2 linked regions of the Homo sapiens genome follow. The protein of the gene in region 2 purifies or fractionates together with the protein of the main gene of each other region. This does not show direct contact. Each region holds a gene or a part of one and is shown on either strand. Other genes may lie near its edges.

Region 1 (7,038 bases), on a different chromosome or scaffold from region 2:
CTGAATCATCATCTTCCAAGAAAAAAAAAGTGAAAATTCCACTTAAGCAGTAACAGAACAGGATTAAAATAATAAGAAAAAGCTTAGTTTTCTCTAGAATTATTACACTGAACATGCCAAAAATCAGTGCTAATGGACATCAACAAGTTCACACTAAACTACAGCCTCCACACGCTTTCTAAAGCAGATTACATTAGAATCAAGTCAGATATGATCACAAAATGAGAATACCTGCATATGACTCTGATGCAGAGCTTCCACTTCTATCAAAAACAATTGGAGATATGCCTCTAGCTCTCTTCCTTTCCTTCTTTTTCTCATCTAAAAAGAACAAGAGTTTTTTTTTTAAATCACAATACAGAAACGAAGAGAAGTAATCAAACAAGAATGTATCATTACATGTCTAGTTTTTGCATAGCCCTTCTATTAGTCTGTGCTCCTCTCTCCTGATCCCTCAATTTCCTCAGAATGTTTTATTTTAAAAATACTGTTTAAAAAGTACGGGCATCTTGTTTCTTTCATCAGTTTCAATCAAATAAAAACACACGAAATAACTACAAAGTCAGGGCCTTAATTGCCATATATAGGTGGCCTTGAATACAGTTTTCCAAGCGGGGGGGGAAATTTGCAAAGCAAAAACAATTTCTTTCAAAACTGTGTCCTTTCTACACACCAGGTAACACTGTCTTAAGTCCTTATTTTTTTAAACTCCACTACCATTCTTCAGCACAATTACAATTCTGATTCTATCTTAAGAGATCTGATGAACCCCTGAACCCAAAGCTTTACAACTGGAAAAATATATATACCATAATTAGTGATTCCCTTCTGGTTGCCATTGCTTGTTTTTGTGTCTTCTATTTCATTCTCCTTAGCCATTTCCTCCCTGGATTACTGCTCTTATTTTCAAATTCAATTTAAAATTTATCCCTACAATTTTAATGGTAGCCTGTGTATTTCTGTAAGAGAGCTGAAAATCTTCAGTAAATAGAAAAGGTTTGGATTACCTGCCATGTAAGAACCAGTCCCAAGCTTAATTTGGAACTTTGTAAGCATATACATGAGGACTTGAAATGGAATTCAGCTCTCCTATCTGTTTATTTTTATCTTAGTTTTACCATGATAAGCTCCTTTTACTTTTCAGCTTAGAGATAAGGGAATAGGAAGAAAAAAATGCATATACTTATTTTTATATAAACAATGGAAAGCTGAAAAATAATAATCAGTGATCATGTATACAATAACCTACTATATAATGACAGCTATTTAAAAAGCTTTAACTACTTATCTCCTTTAATTCTCATAACAAGTTCACAAGATATTCTCATTACAGATGAAGAAACCTTGAATTAGACAGGCAGTTAGGCAACTAGACTAGGGTCCCACAGTTCCTGGATGGCAGAACCTAGACTCAAGGGCAGGTCCTCTGGCTTGAGCAAGTAGAAAGGATGTTTTATACTATTTTTGAAAGGTGATTACAGGTTTAACTAGTTTTGGGGGCTTTTTTCATTATTTCTTTCAAAAGTTCTGACATGTTTCTTCTAATTTTTCCCCCATGGATATTTCTTTCAGTAGTCTAAGCATTATGAATGCATCTGACTGAGTGTAATTTATCTCTTGTTGCTGTTAAAAAAGAATTATTTCATGGTCCAAAGTACTAAAAAGGGCCTGGTGCAGTTGCTCGTGCCTGTAATCCCAGCACTTTGGGAGGTCGAGGCAGGCGGATCACTTGACCTCAGGAGTTCGAGACCAGCCTGGGCAACATAGCAAGACCCTCTTTATATAAAGACAAAAACAATAATTAAAAAGTTACTAAAAAGATCTGAGATAATGCAGGGAAAATAACAGAAGCAGAAGATCCTACTCAATTGTTTTTATATAATGCTAAACCTAGCATTAGCATGAGAAATCTCCAAGGAATTTTCATCATTTTTGTATGAATAACTCCCAATGCTCTTAAGTTTATGGCCCTCTCCCCCAACTATTACTCTCAGGTCAAAAGAACAATGAAAATCATCTAATAAATAAACTGTTATCAATCAGTCTGTTGCTTTTATAAAGTTACCAAAAATTCTGAGAATAAGGTAAAATGAACTGGAATCTAGAAAATTCATGACAGAGAAACTCAACTGTGATCACTTTTATTTAAAAACTGACGTCTCTTAATCAAGAAGTTCCAAAATCACCCCATTACTCTTTCATAAACTATTGTATAAAAAAAAATTTCCTGCATATTAATATAGTACCTAAAGCATGTTCCACATAAGGGATTTTCCTTTATAAGGAAAATAAAACTTTCAGGTATCTCTTTTAGAATAAACCTAGTCTAGTAACAGAGTTTTGATATCAAGATTTATTATAAAACTACAGTTACCATTTAATTTGAAATGTCTTCTCCACAAAAACAAAGTGTGTCAATCAAGTTACCTTACTATGGTATCATCTAGGAGCCTGTTACAAATGCAATTTCTGGTCCTACCCATTTAAGTAAGTTCCCTTTGTTTAATGTAAACAATACAAACATTAAAGTCTAAGAAATAACAGAGATACCAAAAAGAAGATTCCTACAACAAAACGTTCCCTACCCAAGGGAGTGGTTTCATACATTCTCCACAATAAATGAACATTCAACACATACTGCTAATGAAATATTTATTATCTTAAATTATAAAAAATATATCCTATCAGTTTGTAAAAGGCATGATGGAAGCATAAAGATTTCATATGTTTTTACAACAAATCCAACTACTCATCTATTCTGTTTAACTCTACCTCCCTTGAAAAGCCTATCTTAACTCCCAAACCTAGAATTCTAGTGAACAAAAGGTTGAAAGCACTTCAGTTGCCAATCACTAGAAAATAACTGGCCATCTGCTCTACCTATACTGTATGTAGTATAGATATATACTATCCATATAGTATAAATATATAGTATAAAATATATAGTATAGATATATACTATCTGTATATAGTATAGGTAGAGCAGATGGCCAGTTATCTTCTAGTGATTGGCAACTGAAGTACTTTTCTATACTATATATACTATATATATAAAACAATGTACTATTATAAATGATCAAATTCTATAATAAACTGTAAATGTATTTCAAAAAAATAGGAATTTTCTTATGTTTAGTACATTTTGCTTATGTAGCAATCTGGTAGCATCTTTACATAAGACAGTCATGAGATTATAATCATCATATAGTGCTCTGTAAGTACCCTGACCTCTCCTTGCTGTACCCTCCCCCAAGAAAAGTTCCCCTAAGCCTAGTGCCTCCAACTACGTAACAGTCATACATTTTTGTCTCATAGGTATAGAGAGGCAGGATATATATAGCATTGAAGAAATGACTGAAGATGGTTCTTACCTGATTTTTCCACAAGAATTTTATTTATAGTCTTCATCTCCATCTTATACCTTACACCCCAGCCCTCTTGTCGACCCTGTCTCAGCCAGTCAACTGACAGACACAAAATTAGAAGAAAAGTCTGTGCTCCCAGAGATAAAAAAGAAATAATCTGTTTTGATTCTGAAGCCATATGATGGAAATCTAGGGGTATTTTACCAAGGAAATACTGTAATACCCAGTGGACAGGTTTCCTATGAATATACTTCAAGTACATCAGTGTTTAAATAAACTGCTGACTGGTATGAAAATCTAAGAATTTACAGAAATCTGAAATACATTTCCTTATACAGAATCAAATGGACTTGTGTTCATTTACAACACAACCATTCTGTAGCTAGGAAATGCCTTTCCTAAAATATGTAAATCTTATCCAAGATTATTCAAATGTATTTATAACATTCAAAAGCATATAAAGGATCACAAGACAATCCTATTAATATCCCCCATCTCCTCAACAATTTTATAATTTAAACATTTTCAAGACTGAAACCTATCAAGCTTTTTTTAAGACAAACTTTTACATATAAAAAGTAGTACCTGATCCATCTGTGCCTGAACCAGATCTGACAGACCCATCTGTGAAGGAAACAGATTCAGAACCAGAGTCACTGGCCTCACTTCGAGTGTCATAATCATTTCCCTCCTCTTTCTGGTCTCTCTCATCCTGTTCATATTCTTCTTCTTCCTCCTCCTCCTCCTCCTCTTCCTCCTCCTCCTCTTCCTCCTCCTCCTCTCCATCTTCATCCACCTCTTCATCTTCTTCTGCATCTTCTTCTACTTCTTCATCTTCCTCCACATCTTCTTCCACTCCTTCCTCCTCATTCTCAGTGTTGTTCCCTTGCTCATCAGAAGAACCACTGCTGCCAGTCTCATGGTCAGAGCCATATTCTTCAGAGTTCACTTCTTCCTTAGAAGACTGGCTGGATCTGCTTGCACGTCTATCCACTTCAAGCCCAATTCTCTGATGTTTAAAGAAAAAGGGAATCAGCAGTCATATAAAAGACAAGGTCAGGGTGAATAAACAGTTCTAAAGCCTCAAAAAGAATGGCTTTCTGTTTTATATCTGCAATAATATTTACTACCTCAGAACCATCTGGCGTAGGAGATTTGGCCCTCCTTTCAGGATCCCTTTTCCGGACACAGGTTTTTTCAGGTTGATTCTTATAAGGTTCTCTGGAGGCACTACTTGATAGACGAATTTTCCGATCAGCATCTAGACGCTTGTTTCTTTCAGATCTTTGATATTCCTCATTTTTATACTCTGTGGCTGACTTTCCTTTTGTACTAACTATTCTTTTGTTATTGCTAACAGATGAGCTCAGTGGCTTAGAAACCAGTTGTCTAGAATGGACAGAAGGCTTTTGTCGTTTGGTATCAGTAGATTCCATTCGATCACTTTTTCTTTTTGATCCTTTAAAATACAATGTAAAAAAAAAAAAAAGAAGTATTTGTAGTATTCCATTTATTTCACCAAAGACTGACAATAATATATACATCAGGAAGGGGGGATAGGCCTCATTTCTTTAAAAGTCTTCTGAGAGATTTCTTCTCCAGAGTTAATCTAAAAGAAAACATAGCTTTCAACTATGGGAATAAAACCATATATTTGAGAAGTTTCATATATTAGAAAAAAACAGATTATCCCTATTCATATGGATACCAGTTTATTATGTACATTTAGTGTTAACTGCCTCAAGGAACAAGCACAAAAAAGCACAGTCATTTTTTTTAAGAAATTGAATCTCCTCTATTTATACTGTTATTTCAACAAAAATAATAGAACTCTTACATACCCTTTTTCTCATTTTTATCTTGTTCACTCTCTGGATTATACAGTTCATCATCTTGTTCTGGTACTTCAGTTAAAATATCATCCAGAACATTAAGTTCTCCATCTGCAAATAAAATTAAAAATTAATAGGGAAAAATCACTATCATTGAACATGTATTTTTGAGTACTTACTAAGTGTGAGGCCACAAGCGCCTAGGAGCTTTTACTTTTATATAAAAAGCTTTACTTTTATTTCAGAATCAAGACACAAGATTAATTTCTATAAAACTAATACAGGGTAAAGAATTGGCCAGTCGTGGTGGCTCATGCCTGCAATCCCAGCACTTTGGGAGGCTGAGGCAGGCCAATCACGTGACGCCAGGAGTTTGAGACCAGCCTGGCCAACATGGCAAAACCCTGCTCTGCTAAAAATACAAAAATTAGCAGGGCATGGTGGCACATGCCTTTAACCCCAGCTACTCAGAAGGCTCAGGGACAAGAATCACTTGAACCTGGGAAGCAGAGGTTGCAGTAAGCCAAGATTGTGCCACTGCATTCCAGCCTGGGCGATAAGAGTGAGTTTCTCAAAATACACACACACACACAAACAGAAGTCTGGGCTATCTGGTCTACAAAGCCAGGAGTATACATCTCAGAAGGCATGAAAAGATATACTGAGGCATAAAAAGAAAATGCAAGAATGTCTCTATTTTTACCTCATTCTTTAATTTCTAATATTTCTGAGGGCTTTAAAATGTGTACAATAAATTAGTATACAAATACGTATGTACAACTTATAAATACACATTTACCAAAAATGTGCACTCTCCACAATTACAAAGGGAAAACGACTTTACAGTGGAGAAATGTTTCACAGGCCAAATTAACCAGATAATCAAAGTTAACATCACCAGTAATGAGACAAATCAACATCATGGACCTCCTGTAACAATGCTCTGAGAATAGAACAATGCTTTTGTAATGTTCTATGCAAAATGGAAAAGCTGAACCTACATGAGGAAAAAAATCAGACAAACCCAAATTAAAGGGCATCCAAATATGTCACTGTCATGAAACAAAGAGTAAGAACTATTTCATATCAAAGCAGACCTAGAGAGGCATGATAACTGAACACAGCCCACAATATTGGACATAATTGGAAAAACTGGTGAAATCTGAATAAAGTTTGTAAATCAGAGTAAGTAGCAATGTTATTTTTCTAATTTTGACTGTACTATGGTTAAGTCAAAGTCCTTATAACACATATTTAAGTATTTAGGGACAAAGATATATTATGTCTACAACTTACAAATGGTTCAGGAAAAAAGTGTGCACACATGCACGTACACACACAGACACACAGAATGAGACAAATGTGACAAAATGCTAACATCTGCAGAATGTGTTTGGAGAGTAAAAGAAAATTCTTCACACTGCACTTGTAGCTATTATGCTTATCTGAAATTATGTCAAACTGCAAGTTAAATGAAAAAATTATCAATGTGCTATATAATAAAAAAAACATTTAGAGCCTGCTGGTGTGGACTGTAAAAGCACAAAACTTGTTCAGAGAAGGGAACTATGACTTTATTCAATGATCATGAAAGCATAAAACTCAGTTTTGTCCCCACTTCTACCTTGTCCAACAAGATAAACCTTAGAAATACACACAAATACCATTTTAAATTTTAAAATGTACTAATGCTAATAGTAAATGTTTAAACATTAACTATTCCAATATCAAAAACATCTTTCCAAATTTAAGGTGTGCCAAAGAGGAAGTATAAAGCCATGAAAACTGATGAGACAGAACAATTACATTTGTGGCTTCAGGAAAAAAACAAAGCCCACATG
Region 2 (7,038 bases):
ATGCTACAAAAATTCCTATGCAGAGCTGAGGGTTCCAAAATTCAGTGATAGAAAATTAAATTCTAAAATTGCCTTTTCATTTAACCATTAAAATTTTTTGCAATATCAAAAGCAACAACAGTGCTTTGTTGTAATACACCATTCATAGTTTGTGATATAGTCAACTCTTGACTGTTAACTGGTGTGTCTGGGCCTGCTACCCAGTTTGTGGATTGCCCAGACCCTGTTTCTCTTCTCCCATTTATCGTCCACTCTGTGGTTGGCCATCAGAGGAGGAAAAGAGGAAGGAAAAACCCAGTGGTGACAGTTAGGACTCTTGTTAGCTTTTTCTGATGGGAGGTTTGGTGGGACAAGACATTGAAACCATTAGTTACAATGAATTTTTAAGAATTTCATCTCATCCATGCTTTCTTCGTCTGCCATGTCCATGAATAATTGAGAGTGTTCCATGTGGCTCCTTAAATACCTGTGACAGTGATTGATGACCCTCATTTTTCCTGTTATATTTTTTAAGCCCTTCTCCTAGGTTACCAGCATGAATGTAATTAAGGTAAAATTAGCACTGACCCCTGTGTTTTGAGGAGGGTGGGTAAAGGATGAGAAGGAACTTTGTACCATTATAGTATTTGTCCAGTTTCTTTCTCCCTTGCCTTGACATTCCTATAATTGCCTTAAATTCTTTTAACAGTTTCACATGCCAAGTGCAGAATATAAAAGATGGAAAATGAAGAGCTTTAAAGACAGTATTAGGGGCATGCAACATGTCTGTGATACGTGTAAGAATTATTTTGCATATAGGTAAATATGACAAATTGAAGTAAGAGTCTGTTGCCCAGTAATCAGATGTTGGACAAAGTAACTTTACTGGAATTTGGTTCTTGAGCTAATCGGTCAGAGAGATTAACTTCCATATTTGTATTTCTTATAAAGTCAGAATTTTTTGTCTGTATTTCTCTAGTTGAGGAACTTTGGATGATATTGAATATTTTATCTCAATTGATATAAGAGAATGAAGTTAGAATGTGAATATTGCAGCTATTTTATAATCAAGGGTTCAGATTTGGGTTCTCCCAATTACCAGCTCTGTGACCTTGAACCCTCTGTGACCCGTCTGTACAAGGGAGTACTATTTAGAGGTGCCTGCATTCTATGTTGTTTAGAGATGGCAGTGAGATAATGAAAAAAGCAGTGCTTGATATATATTTCTTAAGTTCCCCATAAATATTAAATGTTATTATTTATATATAACATTTAGGGAAAGAAAAACACCACATAATGTAAGTTTAAAAAATTTTCAAAGGAAGCAAATTTACACTGCAGTCAAGATTTTATTCAGATTGTTTATGCAAGCTCTTATTCTAAGAACTTTTCTCTATTAGATTAATGCTAATTGAACCATTAATTATCTTGAAACTATAAATAACATTTAAAAAATTCTTAAAAGTATAATCCTTTAATGTTAAGGCCATTTGATACACACACACACACACACACACACACACACACACACACACACACACACACACACACACACTAGCCTTGCTGCATTCTTCCTGTCAGCAAATTTGGAGATTAATAGTTTTAACTAGGGCGCTTGTGTGCCGTATACATCTGCTGCTGTTTCTTCAGTTTGGCAATGCAGATAGCCGTTTGCCGGGTAAATGGTTTTGGTTACATTAGTCTTAAAGGTTTGAATCTGGATGTGATTGGCACCAGCCCGTTCCTAAGAAACACCTGCAGGGGCTGGATGCGGTGGCTCATGCCTGTAATCGCAGCACTTTGGGAGGCCGAGGATCTTCTCAGATCACATGAGGCCACGAGTTTGAGACCAGCCTGGCCAACATGGTGAAAACCTGACTCTACTAAAAGTACAAAAATCAGCCAGGCATGGTGGCGCACGTCTGTAATCCCAGCTACTAAGGAGTCTGAGGCAGGAGAATTGCTTGAACCTGGGAGGCAGAGGTTGCAGTGAGCCAAGATTGCACCATTGCACTCCAGCGTGGATGACAGAGCGAGACTCTGTTTCAAAGAAAAAAAAAAGAAACACCATTAGGATGGTGCTGCATGTGCTTACACAAAGGGTGTTGGTGGCATTTTGTGTTTTAACATTTGGATAGCCAGGCAAACAACTTTAGAGCAGCATTTTCTCTCCCTAATCCTTGACCTGGATTCTCTGTTCTCTGGTGTAGGGCAGAGAGAGGGGCACGGAGGCCCCTGGGCTAGAAGCAGCGGAGCCCCACCTGACTGGAAGGGATTTGTGGTCATAATTTCTGCAGTGCAAGGGGCCAGGAGATGGGTGTCCTATTCATTCATGGGCCACACCTGTGCTTGGCTGCTTTCCAACAGGGTTGGCTCCCTCTTTCTGCCTTGAGAATTCTCCCTTTCTGCAGCTCAGAGGTGGGGGTGGCTGGGGTCTAAATGAATCAAGTACATTTTCTCCATTTTGTTCTAGTATGACCTCTCTTCCTCCACTTTGCACATAAATATAAAAATGCATCTAATTCTATCACCCCAGCCCTACCTGCCCCCAAGGGAACATTTTTTAGTTCACTTCCCAACAACTGCATGGGAAAAGGAGGAGCTGGTGATGTACAATAGGATCCAGAGGTATAAACACCTTTTATAAATTGGTGAACAGACTTCTCCAGGTTTTGGAAGGTCAACTGTATTGTGAAAATTTAAAAAAAGGTTGGGAAACAGTGTTAGTTGATAATAGGAACTGTTAACACAAACAACAAAAACAGCAGATGATTGTAAGTTTATTAGCATTTGGCACCAGAATGACCTTTTTCTCTTTAATGAAAAGCCCCTTTACCTGCCACATGTAGGCATTGCTTAGATTGATCTCCCATAAACATTGCATTCTTGAAAAGCCACCAAAGTCGGAAGACAAAAGCCAGAGCAGGGCTAAACTTTGATCCTGGATAATCCACAAACTAGGCCTTTCACATGCAGATGATCAAGAGTTGACTGTACTCGTGTTAATGTTTCTCACTCTGCTTATCAGACACTAGAAGCGTGGGCTCTACGTATAGAAGGTAGGCACCCAGCACTTAACACTGAGGGAAGTAAAAGTCTGCACAAATTCTAGTAGTATGTATGGTTCAAGAACCATATTTTTGTTGTCTTCTTTCATTTATAAGCTATCCATTTCTCCAAAAGACATTTTGACAGTCTTATTAATAAGTTGCAATTAAAAACCTTGACATATAAAATAATGTGAACATAAAGTATAAATTTATTTTAGAATGTAATTATACCAAATAATCTTTTAATGTAACTATTTAAAAATGCAGAATCTTAATAGAGTGTTCAGTTTTGACACTCTTTCTGTTAATACGTTACCTGTGTGCAGATCTGAAATGTGAAGTGTTATTTTACGAAGAGATTGTGGAGCCCTGGGCTCTAAGGAGACCACACATCATTGCTCATTTTGTCACACGTCAGCCTTAAGTACAGTGTTACTCTACACTGCGGAACGCTTTATAAACCCAACCTGAAATACTTGAGTATGTTTATAAAATATTCTCTTAAATTCAAATGTGTTAAATCACATAAGTATTTCTGTTCAAATGAGGCCAGTGTTAGGTCAATATAAGGTAATGGTAGGACTACTTAGTGGTGCTGTTTTGTTGAGGAATATTCTGTTAACTTTGGAGAGTTTTACTAAGACTTTGAAAGAATTTAATACTGTAGTACTCTTATTCCATAGAAATTACTCTTTTCAATTTAAAGATTGAGAACCTAGATCCCCGAGGAATTCAGCTATCAGCTCTCTTCATGAGTGGAGTAGACATGGCCTTGTTTGCAAATGATGCATGCGGACAGCCAATCCCCTGGGAACACTGTTGTCCTTGGATGTATTTTGATGGGAAGCTCTTCCAATCCAAACTCCTCAAAGCCAGCCGGGAAAAGACCCCACTCATTGACCTCTGTGATGGTCAGGTATGCTGCGGGGCCGGGTGGCTGCCTTTAACTGCAATGAAATAAAGCTCACTGGTTAAATCTGTCATCTTTTATACCATATTTATCATCCTGTGTTTCAAGATTCTGTTTTAGGTTGGGCCTGGTACTGAGTGTCACTAAATATCACTTCAGTACCCAGGATGAGCCAAGCTCCTGATATAACATTGTTTCTCATTATTTGTGGTAGTAATGTTCTAAAATTCACCTTGAACGCCAAATTAGTGAATACTGACCATTGCTCCTAGGGGCAATACAAGGTGCTGGGTTCCTTCAAGGCTCTGGTCACATATTTTTGTTAACCAATCAGTATATAATCTTATTTCATGTGCATTTTCGTTAAAGACACCTTATATAATATGGATTGTTGATTCATTATTATTGAACTCACAGCCAGTAGCTTCTGTAACACGTATATTCTCTGTAAGGCACATCACAGCCTCCTTATGCATTTAGGAACACCAGACAGCACTTCAGCACTACACTTGGAGACCATTTTATTTGTTTGTTTGTTTTGGTTTTTTTTTTTTTTTTTTTGAGATGGAGTTTCGCTCTTGTCGCCCAGGCTGGAGTGCAGTGGTGCGGTCTCAGCTCACTGTAACCTCCACCTCCCAGGTTCAAGTGATTCTCCTGCTTTAGCCTCCCTAGTAGCTGGAATTACAGGTGCCTGCCACCATGCCCAGCTAATTTTTGTATTTTTAGTAGAGACGGTGTTTTGCTATGTTGGTCAGGCTGGTCTTGAACTCCTGACCTCAAGCAATCCACCCACCTTGGCCTCCCAAAGTGCTGGGATTACAGGCGTGAGCTGTTGCACCCAGCCAGGGACCATTTTAAACAGTGAAATTACCAACAAAAAAGGACAAAAATGTGAAACACGTGGCACTTAATAAACTGTGAAAAGGATTCTTGTTTTCAGTATGAGCTGAAACAAGAAGGCAAGCGTTGTCTTGTTTGACCTCAGCTGGGGTCAGTGCATCAGGCAACAAAAATCTTTGCCGTGTTCTGCACAAGTCTGCAGACGACCAGAAAACTGCCATAAGTATTGATTTTTGTGGTTACAAATAAACGTTAGCAAGTAGGAGAATTTGCAGACATAGAATTCATGAATAAAGGGAACCAACTGTATAGTTGATAGATCTTATTTCTTTAGTGCTCATTTAAATTCAATTAAAACCCCCTGTGGATGGCATTTTCACATGCTGGTCCTTGTCTTCCAGGCTGATCAGGCTGCCAAGGTAGAGAAGATGCGCCAGAGCGTCCTCGAGGGGCTCAGCTTCTCCAGGCAGAGCCACACGCTCCCTTTCCCGCCGCCACCTGCCCTGCCCTTCTACCCTGCCTCTGCGTACCCCCGGCACTTTGGGCCTGTCCCACCCTCTCAGGGCAGGGGCAGAGGCTTTGCAGGTGAGTTGATTGGGACGTATTCCTGTGGGTAACAGATGCCAGATTCCTGTAAAGAAAGTGCAGCCCTTATAGGCAAGCCCATCTGCTGTGTTGACCTTGTCACTGTTGGTCTTGGAGATCCTGCAGCAGCAGTTCTTCAAGTCCGTGAGGAGCAAGTTTAATCCTGGAGATAGGGGAGAGGGACCTGCTGATGCAGATGCAAAAGCTGCACCGTAAAATCTGTCAATCAAGCTGAAAACTCTGCTCACATTTTAAGATATATTTGTTTCTCATGTGTAAGGGAAAATAAACCCACCCAGGTCAGAGAGAGCCATCTTCCAGGACTCATCTCCCAGGGCCCTTCCTGAGCCCCATGCTAGTGCCCTGTTGAATGACCCACTGCAGGGAGGGTGGCCTTACAATACTGGTCCCCAGGGACCATGGGCACAGGACAGTGAGGTGACAAGAGGGGCCAGGAGACCCCTCCATGGCAGCTGGAGGAGGCAGGGGCCACTCTGCCTGAATACCCAGCAGGGCCCTGAGTCCTGTCCCTTACACTTCTCCCCTCTCTCTCTACCCCGGGTCCCACAGGCGTCTGTGGCTTTGGAGGCCCCTATGGGGAAACGGTAGCAACAGGCCCTTACCGTGCCTTCCGTGTGGCGGCAGCATCGGGACACTGCGGAGCCTTCTCAGGCAGTGACAGCAGCAGGACTAGCAAGTCCCAGGGCGGTAATTATACCCACCCCTTCCCAGAGCTTCTGCCTGCCAGCACTTCCTTCGCTCCATCGTCTGGCGCCTTCCTTCCTCTACTGTCCTCATGAGCCCCTCCTCCAGCAGAACGGCCTTTCTTCTGGGTCCCCGCTCTGACCCTCATTGACCACTCCTCCTGAGACTCTCTGCTCTCAGGTCTCAGCAGCGGCTCTGCTGTGGCCAGTCTCTCCTTTCAGGGTAGACCACTGAGTGTCCACCTAGAACAGAACCTTTCTGTGCACCTGGGTAACCTGACCATCGCCTCGTGTTCATAGGATGAGCTGCTAATAGTGGCGTTTCTTTCCCAAGCAGCCATCTTTTGGTAAAGATTATCATGCTTGTATAGAAAATGCTAATGGTCACAGAATTCCTGACATAAAAAGTCTGTCACAGTTTGTTTCGCAGAAACATTTTTAAACAAAGATCTAATGTTGGGCATATAAACAAGGCAGTTTACTGTAGATTCCCAGTGCTTCTCTTTGCATTTGTATTAGGCTTGCAAAAGAGAAAAGGGTCTTAACATTTAGCATAGGAAGCAATGTCTTGTGATGGTGCTGTAATTGGAAGTCAGTGACCTGTATCTTTGTCCTAATCCCACATTTTGGGACTGCAGATCTAAATCTGCCCATCAAGTCACATAACAGGATTAACTGTTCAGATGTGATTTTGGAGTTGCATTGAGGATGGGCAAGCCTTTCTCTCTTGATCAACAATGTTTTTCCAACTCAGTTACATGGGATAGTTAGGGAGGCCAGCAAGGGAACTGTGCGGAAAGGTGACTTGCAGATTTGGCGACGGGTCAGCCCCTCTGTCTGCAGGTCACCTCTCCTTTCCCTGGTGCAGCTGCATGCCTCTCTGCCTCCTCTGTCTGCCCACCAGCCTCCTGCAGTGTGCTACTCTGCTCTGTGACTGCTCCTCATGCAGCTCGCAGCCATGTTTCCTCTC

What was found. The genes of interacting proteins can lie anywhere in the genome.
Region 1: the proteins of FAM120A (region 2) and YTHDC1 purify together in Homo sapiens (co-immunoprecipitation; 2 studies listed by BioGRID and IntAct, with this or other methods). This does not show direct contact.

Annotation. Positions count from the first base shown.
Region 1 is NC_000004.12:68,333,077-68,340,114, forward strand, and holds part of YTHDC1 (YTH domain-containing protein 1), read right to left. Parts: intron 5,309-7,038; coding exon 5,207-5,308; intron 4,825-5,206; coding exon 4,496-4,824; intron 4,375-4,495; coding exon 3,951-4,374; intron 322-3,950; coding exon 232-321; intron 1-231. UniProt on the Homo sapiens protein: Regulator of alternative splicing that specifically recognizes and binds N6-methyladenosine (m6A)-containing RNAs.
Region 2 is NC_000009.12:93,552,647-93,559,684, forward strand, and holds part of FAM120A (constitutive coactivator of PPAR-gamma-like protein 1), read left to right. Parts: exon of another isoform or gene 1-3,712; intron 3,713-3,735; coding exon 3,736-3,945; intron 3,946-5,180; coding exon 5,181-5,364; intron 5,365-5,934; coding exon 5,935-6,072; intron 6,073-7,038. UniProt on the Homo sapiens protein: Component of the oxidative stress-induced survival signaling. May regulate the activation of SRC family protein kinases. May act as a scaffolding protein enabling SRC family protein kinases to phosphorylate and activate PI3-kinase.